Linked DNA regions of Homo sapiens: region 2 is linked to region 1. A link means that fine-mapping ties the variant in region 1 to the expression of a gene that starts in the linked region. Tissue or cell type: whole blood. Region 1 holds a variant in brackets; the other region holds the start of a gene. All regions are shown on one strand. Distances are between the middles of the regions.

Region 1 (7,656 bases):
TAGGAGGTCGAGGTTGCAGTATGCCATGTTCACACCACTGCACACCAACCTGGATAACAGAGTGAGACTCTGTCTCAAAAACAACAAACAAACAAACAAACAGACCAACCGACCAAACAAACAAAATAAACCCCACAAAACCAAACCAAACCAAAAATCATTTAAAGAAAAGGAGGTGGAAAAATGGTGACAGTGGGAGTCAAATCTTGACAAATAGGTTGGTCAAAGTCATGAATTCAAAACTAGGCAGGTACTGCAGAACCACTAGATGTTCTTGGGCAGGGTGACTGGGAATGATTATAATCAATTTGAAGTATGATTCCCCAAAATACAGAAGGTTCTAATGATGAAAATTTGTAGTATTAGTTTTCTTAAGCAATATGCTTCAAAATTCTAATACCCAATTTTCACTGAATTATGTTCATTAGCCAAAAGATACATACATTTATATGTATATTTTATTAGACATACTATATAGGTTATAGTATGTTCATATTATAAGATTATTTCGTATCATGAGTGCCAGAAATTTGCTGATAATTACATTATCTTTTGTTAGTCACATGTTTGTATGAGCCACTGAAGGTATGCAACAGATAATAATTTGGTTACCAAACATGATCAGAGGCCATGCAACTCATGTCAGACAGAATGGTCTCTATGAAAACAGTTCTATAAGTACTTCTGGAATCAAACATTTCCTGAGCCTCAAAGCATCAAGAATGCAAAGATAATTACAAAGAATCCTCTGCATTAAGCATGTGTTCTCCCCAAATTCTATGAACTCTGAGCTATCAGTCAAATGTGGTAGTTTATTATAGTATTACCACATTTGCTTAGCAGGGAACAATTTCTGCCATGAAAGAAGTTCTGCCTTCTGACTCAATGCAAGAATCCCCCTCCACAAGCCCAATTTTTACTGCATTATTTTACAGCTAGACCTTCCCATCTCAAACCATTCTGTACTTCCATAAATAGGATATCGGAACTTCCCTATGAGCCTTCTATTAATGGATCCTGAAAACATGATTTACTGTCAGCTGGGTACTGACGGTAAGACCACACACATCAGTGTTTTCCATTGAGGTGGAGTTATCACGGTTACTTTGCAATTGTTAATACTTATAAGTGGTAGACTTGATATTGCAAGAATTGAATCAATATTACGACTTTTTTTTTTCTGTAGGCTCAAGTCTTAAGGGATGTAAAAGCATTGTATGGGCAATGGCTGCTCAGTGGTCTTAAACTGCCCAAGTGTCTTTGGTATTTCTAAGAGTAAGGTCAAGGATGTATATACATTTATTATTGTTGACACAGTATTAATACATACATTCTTTCACTGTTAAAATAAAAAAGCAAATAAAAGTAAATGTATATTCATTAAGTCCATAAGAGTTTAAATCAAATCCATAAATAAAAGTAAGCTCCTCAAAAATAAATTTAAGTATAAATTTATCTGTAGTCAGGTAACTACAAAATAATGTATGTGTGTGCATGTGTGTATGTATGTTTACATATCTCTGGTTTGTAAAAATGTGAGTTAGTAACTTTTTTAGTTTTGGGAAAACATATATAGATACTAAATACATTTAAAATTTATAGTAAATAAATACATTATAAAGAAAATATTTGCCATTGTTTTACAATTTATATAGCATTCATTTGGCACTCAGTCTCTGCAATGTAAAGAATATGAAGATGATTTCAAAATATTACAGACTTTATTTAAAAAACCAAGCCAATTTTAGTAATTATTTGTATCTCTATTAAAATACCTATGTCCCAACCTCTTATCCTGCTCTCGCTCACCAGCAAAGATGGAAAGCTCTTTAAAATAGCAGGCATTTCCAACTTCTCTAATTCCATATAGTACCCAGTACAATTTTCTACATCTATCAAAAAATAAGTAAAACTAGCTGCCTTAAAAAATAAGTAGCAATAATCTTTAAAATATACATTAGGATTCTAATGGGAATATTTAACGCAAATTGGAACTTTCTTGCTGGTCTGCTACTAACAAAAGCTACTGTGACTGATATTAAATGAATAATACTTAAAACGATGTGTGTGGCTGGGCACAGTGGCTCACGCCTATAATCCCAGCACTTTGGGAGGCCGATGTGGGCAGATCACCTGAGGTCAGGAGTTCAAGACCAGCTTGGCCAACATGCTGAAACCCCATCTCTACTAAAAATACAAAAATTAGCTGGGCGTGGTGGTGTGTGCCTGTAATCCCAGCTACTTGGGAGGCTGAGGTAGGAGAATCGCTTGAACCCAGGAGGCGGAGGTTGCAGCGAGACAAGATAGCGCCACTGCACTCTAGCCTGGGTGACAGAGCAAGACTCTGTCTCAAAAAAATAAAATAAAAATAAAAAATAAATAAATAAAATAAATACATGTCGAGGGACATTCCAAGAAGGCCGAACAGGAAGACCTCTGGTCTGCAGCTCCCAGCATGATCATCCCAGAAGACAGGTGATTTCTATATTTCCAACTGAGGTACCTGGTTCATCTCACTGGGACTGGCTGGACAGTGGGTGCAGCCCACGGAGGGCGAGCTGAAGCAGGGCAGGGAGGCACGAGGGGTTGGGGTATTTCCCTTTCCTAGCCAAAGGAAGCCGTGACAGACTACCTGGAAAAACGGGACACTCCCCACCCAAATACTACGCTTTTCCCAAGGTCTTAGCAACCAGCAGACAAGGTGATTCTCTCCCGTGCCTGGCTTGGCGGGTCCTACGCCCACGGAGCCTTGCTCACCGCTAGCACAACAGTCTGAGATTGATCTGCGAGGCAGCAGCCTGGCTGGGGGAGGGGAATTTGCCAATGCTGAGGCTTGAGTAGGTAAACAAAGCAGCCAGGAAGCTTGAACTGGGTGGAGCCCACCGCAGCCCAACTAGGCCTACTGCCTCTAGACTCCATCTCTGTGGGCAGGGCATGGTTGAACAAAAGGCAGCAGGCAACTTCTGCAGACTTAAATGTCCCTGTCTGACAGCTCCGAAGAGAGCAGTGGTTCTCCCAGCATGGTGTTTGAGCTCTGAAAATGGACAGACTGCCTCCTCAAGTGGGTCCGTGACCC[C/T]CATGTAGCCTAACTGGGAGACACCTCCCAGTAGGGGCTGACAGACACCTCATATAGGTGGCTGCCCCTCTGGGACGAAGCTTCCAGAGGAAAGATCAGGCAGCAATATTCTCTGTTCTGTAATATTTGCTGTTCTGCAGCCTCCACTGGTGATACCCAGGCAAACAGGGTCTGGAGTGGAACTCCAGCAAACTCCAACAGACCTGCAGCTGAGGAACCTGACTGTTAGAAGGAAAACTAACAAACAGAAAGGAATAGCATCAACATCAACCAAAAGGTCATCTACATAAAAACCCCCATCTGTAGGTCACCAACATCAAAGACCAAAGGTAGATAAAACCACAAAGATGGGGAGAAACCAGAGCGGAAAAGCTGAAAATTCTAAAAATCAGAACACCTCTTCTCCTCCAAAGGATCGCAGCTCCTTGCCAGCAACAGAACAAAGCTGGACGGAGAACGACTTTGACAAGTTGACAGAAGTAGGCTTCAGAAGGTCTGTAATAACAAACTTCTCCAAACTAAAGGAGGATGTTTGAACCCATCACAAGGAAGCTAAAAACCCTGAAAAAAGATTAGACGAATGGCTAAGTAGAATAAACAGTGTAGAGAAGACCTTAAATGACCTGATGGAGCTGAAAACCATGGTGCGAGAACTTCGTGATGCAAGCACAAGCTTCAATAGCCGATTCGATCAAGTGGAAGAAAGGCTATCAGTGACTGAAGATCAAATTAGTGAAATAAAGCGAGAAGATAAGGTTAGAGAAAAAAGAGTAGAAAGAAATGAACAAAGCCTCCAAGAAATACGGGACTGTGTGAAAACACCAAATCTACATTTCACTGGTGTACCTGAAAGTGACAGGGAGAATGGAACCAAGTTGGAAAACACTCTTTAGGATATTATCCAGGAGAACTTCCCCAACCTAGCAAGGCAGGCCAACATTCAAATTCAGGAAATACAGAGAACATCCAAAGATACTCCTTGAGAAGAACAACCCCAAGACACATAATTGTCAGATTCACCAAGGTTGAAATGAAGGAAAAAGTGTTAAGGGGAGCCAGAGAGAAAGGTTGAGTTACCTACAAAGGGAAGCCCATCAGACTAACAGAGGATCTCTTGGCACAAACCTTACAAGCTAGAAGAAAGTGGGGGCCAATATTCAACATTCTTAAAGAATTTTCAACCCAGAATTTCATATTCAGCCAAACTAAGCTTCATAAGTGAAGGAGAAATAAAATCCTTTACAGACAAGCAAATGCTGAGAGATTTTGTCACCACCAGGCCTGCCTTACAATAGCTCCTGAAGGAAGCAGTAAACATGGAAAGAAACAACTGGTACCAGCCACTACAAAAACATGCCACATTGTAAAGACCATCGATGCTATGAAGAAACTGCATCAATTATTGGGCAAAATAACCAGCAAACGTTGTAATGACAGGAGCAAATTCACACCTAACAATATTAACCTGAAATGTAAATGGGCTAAATGCCCCAATTAAAAGACACAGAGTGGCAAATTGGATAAAGAGTCAAGACCCATCAGTGTGCTGTATTCAGGAGACCCATCTCATGTGCAGAGACACACATAGGCTCAAAATAAAGGGATGGAGGAAGATCTACCAAGCAAATGGAAAACAAAAAAAAGCAGGGGTTGCAATCCTAGTCTCTGATAAAACAAACTTTAAACTGACAAAGATCAAAAGAGACAAAGAAGGCCATTACATAATGGTAAAGGGATCAATTCAACAAGAAGAGCTAACTATCCTAAATATATATTCATCCAATACAGGAGCACCCAGATTCATAAAGCAAGTCCTTACAGACCTACAAAGAGACTTAAGACTCCCACACAATAATAATGGGAGACTTTAACACCCCACTGTCAATATTAGACAGATCAATGAGACAGGTTAACAAGGATATCCAGGACTTGAACTCAGCTCTGCATCAAGCAGACCTAACAGACATCTACAGAACTCTCCACCCCAAATCAACAGAATATACATTCTTCTCAGCATCACTTTGCACTTATTCCAAAACCGTCCACATACTTGGAAGTAAAGCACTCCTCAGCAAATGTAAAAGAACAGAAATCACAACAAACTGTCTCTCAGACCACAGTGCAATCAAATTAGAACTCAGGATTAAGAAACTCACTCAAAACCGCACAACTACATGGGAACTGAACAACCTGCTCCTGAATGACTATTGGGTGAATAACAAAATGAAGGCAGAAATAAAGATGTTCTTTGAAACCAATGAGAACAAAGACACAACATACCAGAATCTCTGGGACACATTTAAAGCAGTGTGTAGAGGGAATGTGTAGCACTAAATGCCCACAAGAGAAAGCATGAAAGATCTAAAATCGACACCCTAACCTCACAATTAAAAGAACTAGAGAAGCAAGAGGAAACACTTTCAAAAGCTAGCAGAAGGCAAGAAATAACTAAGATCAGAGCAGGATTGAAGGAGATTGAGACATAAAAAAACCCTTCAAAAAAATCAATGAATCCAGGAGCTGGTTTTTTGAAAAGATCAACAAAATTGATAGACCAGTAGCAAGACTAATAAAGAAGAAAAGAGAGAAGAATCAAATAGATGCCATAAAAAATGATAAAGGGGATATCACCATTGATCCCACAGAAATGCAAACTACCATCAGAGAATACTATAAACACCTCTATGCAAATAAACCAGAAAATCTAGAAGAAATGGATAAATTCCTGGACACATACACTCTTCCAAGACTAAACGAGGAGTACGTTGAATCTCTGAATAGACCAATAACAGGCTCTGAAATTGAGGCAATAATTAATAGCCTAGCAACCAAAAAAAGTCCGGGACCAGATGGATTAACAGCCAAATTCTACCAGAGGTACAAAGAGGAGCTGGTACCATTCCTTCTGAAACTATTCCAATCAATAGAAAAAGAGGGAATCCTCCCTAACTCATTTTATGAGGCCAACATCATCCTGATACCAAAGCCTGGCAGAGACACAACAAACAAAGAGAATTTTAGACCAATATCCCTGAAGAACATCAATGCAAAAATCCTCAATAAAATACTGGCAAACCAAATCCAGCAGCACATCAAAAGGCTTATCCACCACAATGCAGTCAGCTTCATCCCTGGGATGCAAGGCCAGTTCAATATACGCAAATCAATAAACGTAATCCATCACATAAACAACAAACAATGAAAACCACGATTATCTCAATAGATGCAGAAAAGGCCTTTGACAAAATTCAACAGCCCTTCATGCTAAAAACTCTCGATAAACCAGGTATTGATGGAACGTATCTCAAAATAATAAGAGCTATTTATGACAAACCCACAGCCAATATCATCATACTGAATGGGCAAAAACTGGAAGCATTCCCCATACTCAATGGGCAAAAACTGGAAGCATTCCCTTTGAAAACCGGCACACGACAGGGATGTCCTCTCACCACTCCTATTCAACATAGTGTTGGAAGTTCTGGCCAGGGCAATCAGGCAAGAAAAAAAAATAAAGGGTGTTCAATTAGGAAATGAGGAAGTCAAGAGGTCCCTGTTTGCAGATGACATGATTGTAAATTTAGAAAATCCCATCATCTCAGCCCAAAATCTCCTTAAGCTGATAAGCAACTTCAGCAAAGTATCAGGATACAAAATGAATGTGCAAAAAATCACAAGCATTCCTATACACCAATAACAGACAAACAGAGAGCCAAATCATGAATGAACTCTCATTCACAATTGCTACAAAGAGAATAAAATACCTAGGAATCCAACTTACAAGGGACGTGAAGGACCTCTTCAAGGAGAACAACAAACCACTGCTCAACGAAATAAAAGAGGACACAAACAAATGGAAGAATATTCCATGCTCACGGATAGGAAGAATCAATATTGTGAAAATGGCTATGCTACCCAAGGTAATTTATAGATTCAATGCCATCCCCATCAAGCTACCAATAACTTTCTTCACAGAATTTGAAAAAACTACTTTAAAATTCATATGGAACCAAAAAAGAGCCTGCATTGTGAAGACAATCCTAAGCAAAAAGAACAAACCTGGAGGCATCATGCTACCTGATTTCAGACTATACTACAAGGCTACAGTAACTGAAAGAGCATGGTACTGGTACCAAAACAGAAATACAGACCAATGGAACAGAACAGAGGCCTCAGAAATAATGCCGCACATCTACAACCATCTGATCTTTGACAAACCTGACAAAAACAAGAAATGGGGAAAGGATTCCCTATTTAATAAATGGTGCTGGGAAAACTGGCTAGCCATATGTAGAAAGCTGAAACTGGATCCCTTCCTTACACCTTACACAAAAATTGAAGATGGATTAAAGACTTAAATGCTAGACCTAAAACCATAAAAGCCCTAGAAGAAAATCTAGGCAATACCATTAAGGACATAGGCATGGGCAAGGACTTCATGACTAAAACACCAAAAGCAATGGCAACAAAAGCCAAAATAGACAAATTAGGATCTAATTAAACTAAAAAGCTTCTGCACGGCAAAAGAAACTACCATCAGAGTGAACAGGCAACCTACAGAATGGGAGAAAAGTTTTGCA
Region 2 (5,698 bases), 180 kb before region 1:
ATAGCAGGACTGTTGCTTATATTGTTCACAGGGCATGGAGTTCAGCTGAGCAACACACAGTGCCACTTATACTCTGCCAGTTCCAGCCCCCCACCTTTTAAAAATTTTATGTTCCAACATTCAGTGCTGTCCATTCTGCAATTTGCTAAACTAGACAGTATTTTTTTCTTCTGGCCCAGTATTCCTGGTCTACAGGTACTTCCTAGAAAAAAAGATAAATGGAGAAATAAAGGTAATAGAAAGAGCCATTTCCAGAACAAGAACAACATGTTTTTGCAGGTTATCTCTCAGCTACCAAGGAAGCAAAACATATTGGCATTTCAATCCTTACAGTACACACTGATCAAATGATTACAATTATAGAAGTGAGCATGTGCTTTTGAGATTTCCAGACATAAGAAAAAAATATGGCCGGTACTTTAGGTCGTTCAAGATATTTCTTGCATCACTTCCAGCAGGTTATCATGGTTGAGTTGTTCAGCTACACTAGAAAAATATGCTTAGTATAAGCCCTTTCCGTAACTGCCCTTTTACCAGACTTTGTTTCTGCACAGACAGAGGCCTGCCCTGACCCAAATCCTTGGGACTAGCAGGTGAATATTCTGTCTAATATTCTTCCTGGTAATGGCAGTTTACATCGCTCTAAAATGCAAATCTAACTTTATGACCCCCTCATTCAAAATCCCTCCATGGTTCCTGCTTTCAGGATAAAACCAACTCCTAAACAAGGGCGTGCCCAGCCCTTCATGATCCAGCTGTTGCTCCAGCCATTCTTACCTCCCGAGGTCTTCACACAGGCCAGTCTTTTATATATTTATTTTTTAATTGCAGTAAAATATATATAAAACATAAAATACCTAGCACACTCCTACGTATAGACCCCAAAGAACTGAAAACAGGAACTCAAACAGACATTTGTGTATCAATGTTTATTGCAGCTTTAATCAAAATGCTGAAAAAGTAGTAACAGCCCGAGTGTCCATCAACAGAGAATGGAATTTTTTAAATGTGATTTTAACCATTTTGAAGTGTGCAATTCAGTGGCAGTAAAGTACATTCACAGTGTTGTGCAACCATCACCACTATTTGCAAAACCTTTTCATCACCCCAAACAGAAACTCTGTACCAATTAAGCAATAACTCCTCGTTTTCCCCTTCCCCCAGCCCCCAGTAACATCTAATCCACTTTGTCTCTATAAATTTATCCACTAGACATTTCATATAATTGGAATTATGCAATATTTGTCCTTTTGTGTCTAGCTTATTTCAATTAGTATTATGTTTTCCAGGGCCATCCATGTTGTAGCACATATCAGAACTTCATTCCTTTTCATGGCTGAATAATATTCCATTGTGTGTATATACCACATTTTGCTTATCTACTCATCCATCAATGGACACTTAGTTGTTTCCACCTTTTGGCTACTGTGAATAACATCATAATGAACATTCAACACTCAATGCTGCAAAGAACATTCATCCTATTTATGTCCCAGTTCCTTTTGGTAAATACCTTAGAGTAAGCTTGTCCAACCCGTGGCCCAGGACAGCTTTGAATGAGGCCCAACACAAATTCATAAACTTTCTTAAAACATTATGAGATTTTTTTTGTTTTTGTTTTTGTTTTTGCTCATCAGCTGTTGTTAGTGTTAGTGTATTTTATGTGTGGCCCAAGACAATTCTTCTTCCAATGTGGCCCAGGGAAGCCAAAAGATTGGACCCCTCTGGCATTGACTATGCCAGCCTTTCCCCTAGCATACCCCATCCTCACAAGCCGAGTGTCTTTGCCCAGCTTATTCCCTCTCTAGAAAGTTCTTCTCCCAATTTACTTGCCCAGCAAGTTCTGAATCGTTTTCCAGTTTTCAGCTCAAGCTGTTACTTTCTCTCTGATGTTGTCCCTGACGGCCCCAGCCAGCTTCCAGCACTGCATCCTCTATGCTGGCACCCTGGCACGTGTCGCATCCTCTATGCTGGCACCCTGGCACGTGTCACAACCTCTGTTTAGTCTAGTCACAACCTAGGACTGTAAGCCAGTGTTGGCTTCTTTTGATCACACTTTCTGGGAGTGTGTGATGAACGAAAATAAAGAATTTATCATAGTGTCTGGTACAAAGGCCAGCTCTTCTTGTCATCTATTGTAATATGAGCTCAAAAACTGCTTTTTGAATCTAAGTAGTAAAATTCCAGTGCCCTTTGCCTCTGGGGCCTACAAAAACTCTACCACTTTTCAGAGCCTACTATACGAAACATGGATTTTTTTTTTTTTTGAGACTTAGTCTCACTCTGTCGCTCAGACTGGAGTGCAGTGGCGAGATCTCTGCCACAGTGGAGCTCTGCAAGCTCCGCCTCCCGGGTTCACGCCATTCTCCTGCCTCAGTCTCCCGAGTAGCTGGGACTACAGGCGCCCACCACCAAGCCCGGCTAATTTTTTGTATTTTTTAGTAGAGAAGGGGTTTCACCCTGTTAGCCAGGATGGTCTCAATCTCCTGACCTTGTGATCCACCCGCCTCGGCCTCCCAAAGTGCTGGGATTACAGAAGTGAGCCACCGCGCCTGGCCCAAAACATGGAATATTTAGGATTCTTGGCTTCCTTCCTGAAGCAAAGATGCATACGTCACTCACCTTTCAACTATGTCATGAATTGCCCTCTGTCTGGGGAGCTGGTAGGAGAAAGGTTACAGCTCCCATTAGTCCTGTGTTACTTGCTGAACTGCGAGGGCTGCTCTGGAAAGGAGTTTCAAGTGCAGCCTCACAATAAGACCCGAGGCTGGCCTGAAGCCAGACCCTAAAGAGGACAAAGCTGCCGGCTCCCGGGTTTTGCAGCCTTCGCTGAACCCCAGGAATCCACGCAGCTCTCAGAACCCAGACAGGACATTAACAAAGTCACTCTTTACAAAGCCCCAGTGTGCTAAAGAAAATAAGAGTCCTGGTTCTGCTGCTGTGTGGCTCTGAATTCAACTTCTTTATCCACAAGAGTGCTTGAGAGCATTGGAGAGAATTGGGGAAAATAGCATCTGCAATGCCCCCACAACTCTTTCTTTCTTTCTTTCTTTTTTTGATTCGGAGTCTCGCTCTGTTGCCCAGGCTGGAGTGCAGTGGCGCAATCCTGGCTCACTGCAACTTCCACCTCCCGGGTTCAAGCTATTCTCCTGCCTCAGCCTCCTGAGTAGCTGGGATTACAGGTGCGCGCCACTACGCCCGGCTAATTTTTGTTTTTTTGTTTGTTTGTTTGTTTTTAGTAGAGACGCGGTTTCACCATGTTGGTCAGGCTGGTCTCGAACTCCTGACCTCAGGTAATGCACCCGCCTCGGCCTCCCAAAGTGCTGGGATTACAAGCGTGAGCCACCGCGCCCGAAGGTATTCGTTGAACTGCTGTCATTACTATTATGAGCTCCGCCTTGGTGCGCTCTTGGAGGGCTGGACTCTACAGTTCAGCTTTCTCCAAGATCTCAAGAAAGTCACTCAAAATAGCGACTGGGAACCAACCTCTTCAAGCTAGCCGCCTCCACTAAATGGAGATTAAGAAGTTTGCTCACTGGCAGACACCTGGGAGCGATACCACACCTCAGCAGGAGCACATGACGCCAAAGAGCCAGTGGGAGGTGGAGATCCGCCCACCCCGGGAAAACGGGTCCACGCGCTCAGAGTCCCAGAGCCCTGGGGTCTGATGCTGGGGGGTGAGGGTTCCTTTTTCTCTTTGGCCTTGTCTCACCCAACTCCCAGTTTCTTTGTAATAGGAGGAAGGACCTGTTAGCAGACTCTGCAGACCTCCCCTGCGCTCCTCCCTTCTCACCCCCTTGCCCCGAGCCGGATCAGCGCTGCCCCGCGCCGGCGCTTGGCCGTACCTGTCCCGCAGGTTGCCGCTGCGCAGCCCCATGGCCGTGCACTCCGCCTCGCTCACCGGCACCCCCTTGCAGGATTTCACAGGGTAGATCCAGAGCTGCGCCACTGTGCCCACCTGCTGCAGCAGCCGCCGGCGCCGCGTGGGCCATGCGCGGCGCCAGGCGACAGCCCCCAGCGCCACCGCGGTCAGGCCCAGCGCGGCAACCCCGAGCCACCCGGGCCGGGATTGCGCGAGGAGGACAAAGCGCGCCAGCGCGGAGGAGCCGGCGGCGCCCATGGCTGGCTTCTCCGCGAGGTGGCGGCGGCAAGGCCGGAGCGCGCTGGTCGCCCGGGGCCGCTGGGGGAAGGTGCGGCCTTTGGCCCCGAGCCCAAAGGCTGGGCAGCTCCTGAACCCTTCCGGGCCAATCAGAGCAGTGCGTCCTTCTGGGGGGCGGCGCGGGGAGTGGGAGGTGGTGGCTCAGCTTCCACTTGGTCGGCGCCCCACTGCCTCTGCAACCTTCCGTCGCCTGCGCTGCAGGGCGCTGTGCCCTCCCCCACCCCACGATCGCTGCAAGTGACCAATTTATTTACTTACGTATTTATGGGGTTATTTGACCTAAAATAAACAATATACAACATTTGCAGGACAAAGCGTGATTTTGAAATTAGAAATCAGACAGCTGGCAGCAGCCTCTCCTGGGAATAGTGGAGAGCTGGTAGGCCCTGCCTGGCCTGTGCAGTGTCCAGCTCTCTGCTGCCGCCGCCCTCCCCTCAGTCTGCCCAGGGGCTAGGAGCTTCCAGAGAGTGGGGGTCTGATGAAGGAGGATGCTACCAGGCCCTCCGCGCCGGCGAGCCAAGGCCAGAGTTCTCCCGGCGGCCCCTGGGAGCGGCAATGGGCGTCTGAGAGTGCCTTCTACACGGCTCGGGGACGCTCGACTCCTACCGGCGGGGAGCCTCGAGCTGGAGCTGCATTGGCAAGGGCCTTGGCTCAGTTTAACGCTGCACAAGGTCCCCGGGCTGCTTCCGGCGGGAGGGAAAGTCACTTGGTCCTGCAGGCACTCACCTCAGTCACTTGTCACTTCCAAATCAGGTTATATTCCAGACAACAATGTTAGCATACCCCGAACAGCGTGGTTTAGGAGTCAGGCTCCTGCTTGATGTACCAAGCTATTAAAGGAAAAAAATTCCCTCAGACGCTTGTTAAAAAGGTAAGGAAGACTATTCAAGGCTACTGTAACAGGGGCATCACAATAGGGGAAAGAGATTAGGCTCAACTCTGTATTACAGCAAAGACAGCTCAGGATTCATAGCCAAGGAGCGAAGTTCCTCGGGGTCAGTGAATGGAAAATCACTAAGCGGAGACATCAAGTGTAGAGGATTCTTGATAAACCCACTTAACAGGATTCTACTGAACAAGGCAAGGACTTACACACTGAGGGTGACATATGAGGAATCTGAGCAGACATCAAGGGTGATCAGATATTAAGGATGGGAGAATACTCTGGAAACTGACTAAGCAGGATTCTTGCTAAACTGGGCTCTGCAGGGAGTAGGGTGGCAAGGTCAAGGCCTCATGAAGAAAAGGGCACAGGAGAGTCCGAAGTTTGGTCAAGGAGAGTCTGTGTTATCCCCAGCTCAGCCATGGTCCCCTGAGCCAGGAGTGTACATTGCAAGACTCAGCCAGAATTGCCCATGCAGGGCAAGGGTGCATGGATGAGAAGCGGGAGTTCGCCAAGAGAAAAGAACAACACTCTTCCTCCAGCTGGCAACTCACTGCAGAGCAGTTCAGTGCTCAGGGAGGCTCTGTCTTTATTGGCCTGAACACTTATCTGTCCTGTTTTTCTGCTCTATTCTCTTCTCTTCCAACCCCAGGTCA

What was found. PIP is the estimated chance that this variant, and not a neighbour inherited with it, causes the effect.
Region 2: it holds the start of MTARC1, and the variant in region 1 is fine-mapped to the expression of MTARC1 in whole blood (TOPMed, PIP above 0.99).

What each region holds. Positions count from the first base shown.
Region 1 is chr1:220,606,446-220,614,101 of GRCh38, reverse strand. The region is part of intron 6 of MARK1 (microtubule affinity regulating kinase 1); the gene reads right to left. Among named protein-coding and RNA genes, the nearest start is that of C1orf115, 80 kb to the left of the region's middle. The variant C/T (reference allele first, on the strand shown) is at 3,077.
Region 2 is chr1:220,785,367-220,791,064 of GRCh38, reverse strand. MTARC1 (mitochondrial amidoxime reducing component 1) reads right to left here and starts at 4,152. Exons shown (of 7, transcript NM_022746.4): 1 at 3,846-4,152. The coding sequence starts at 4,120.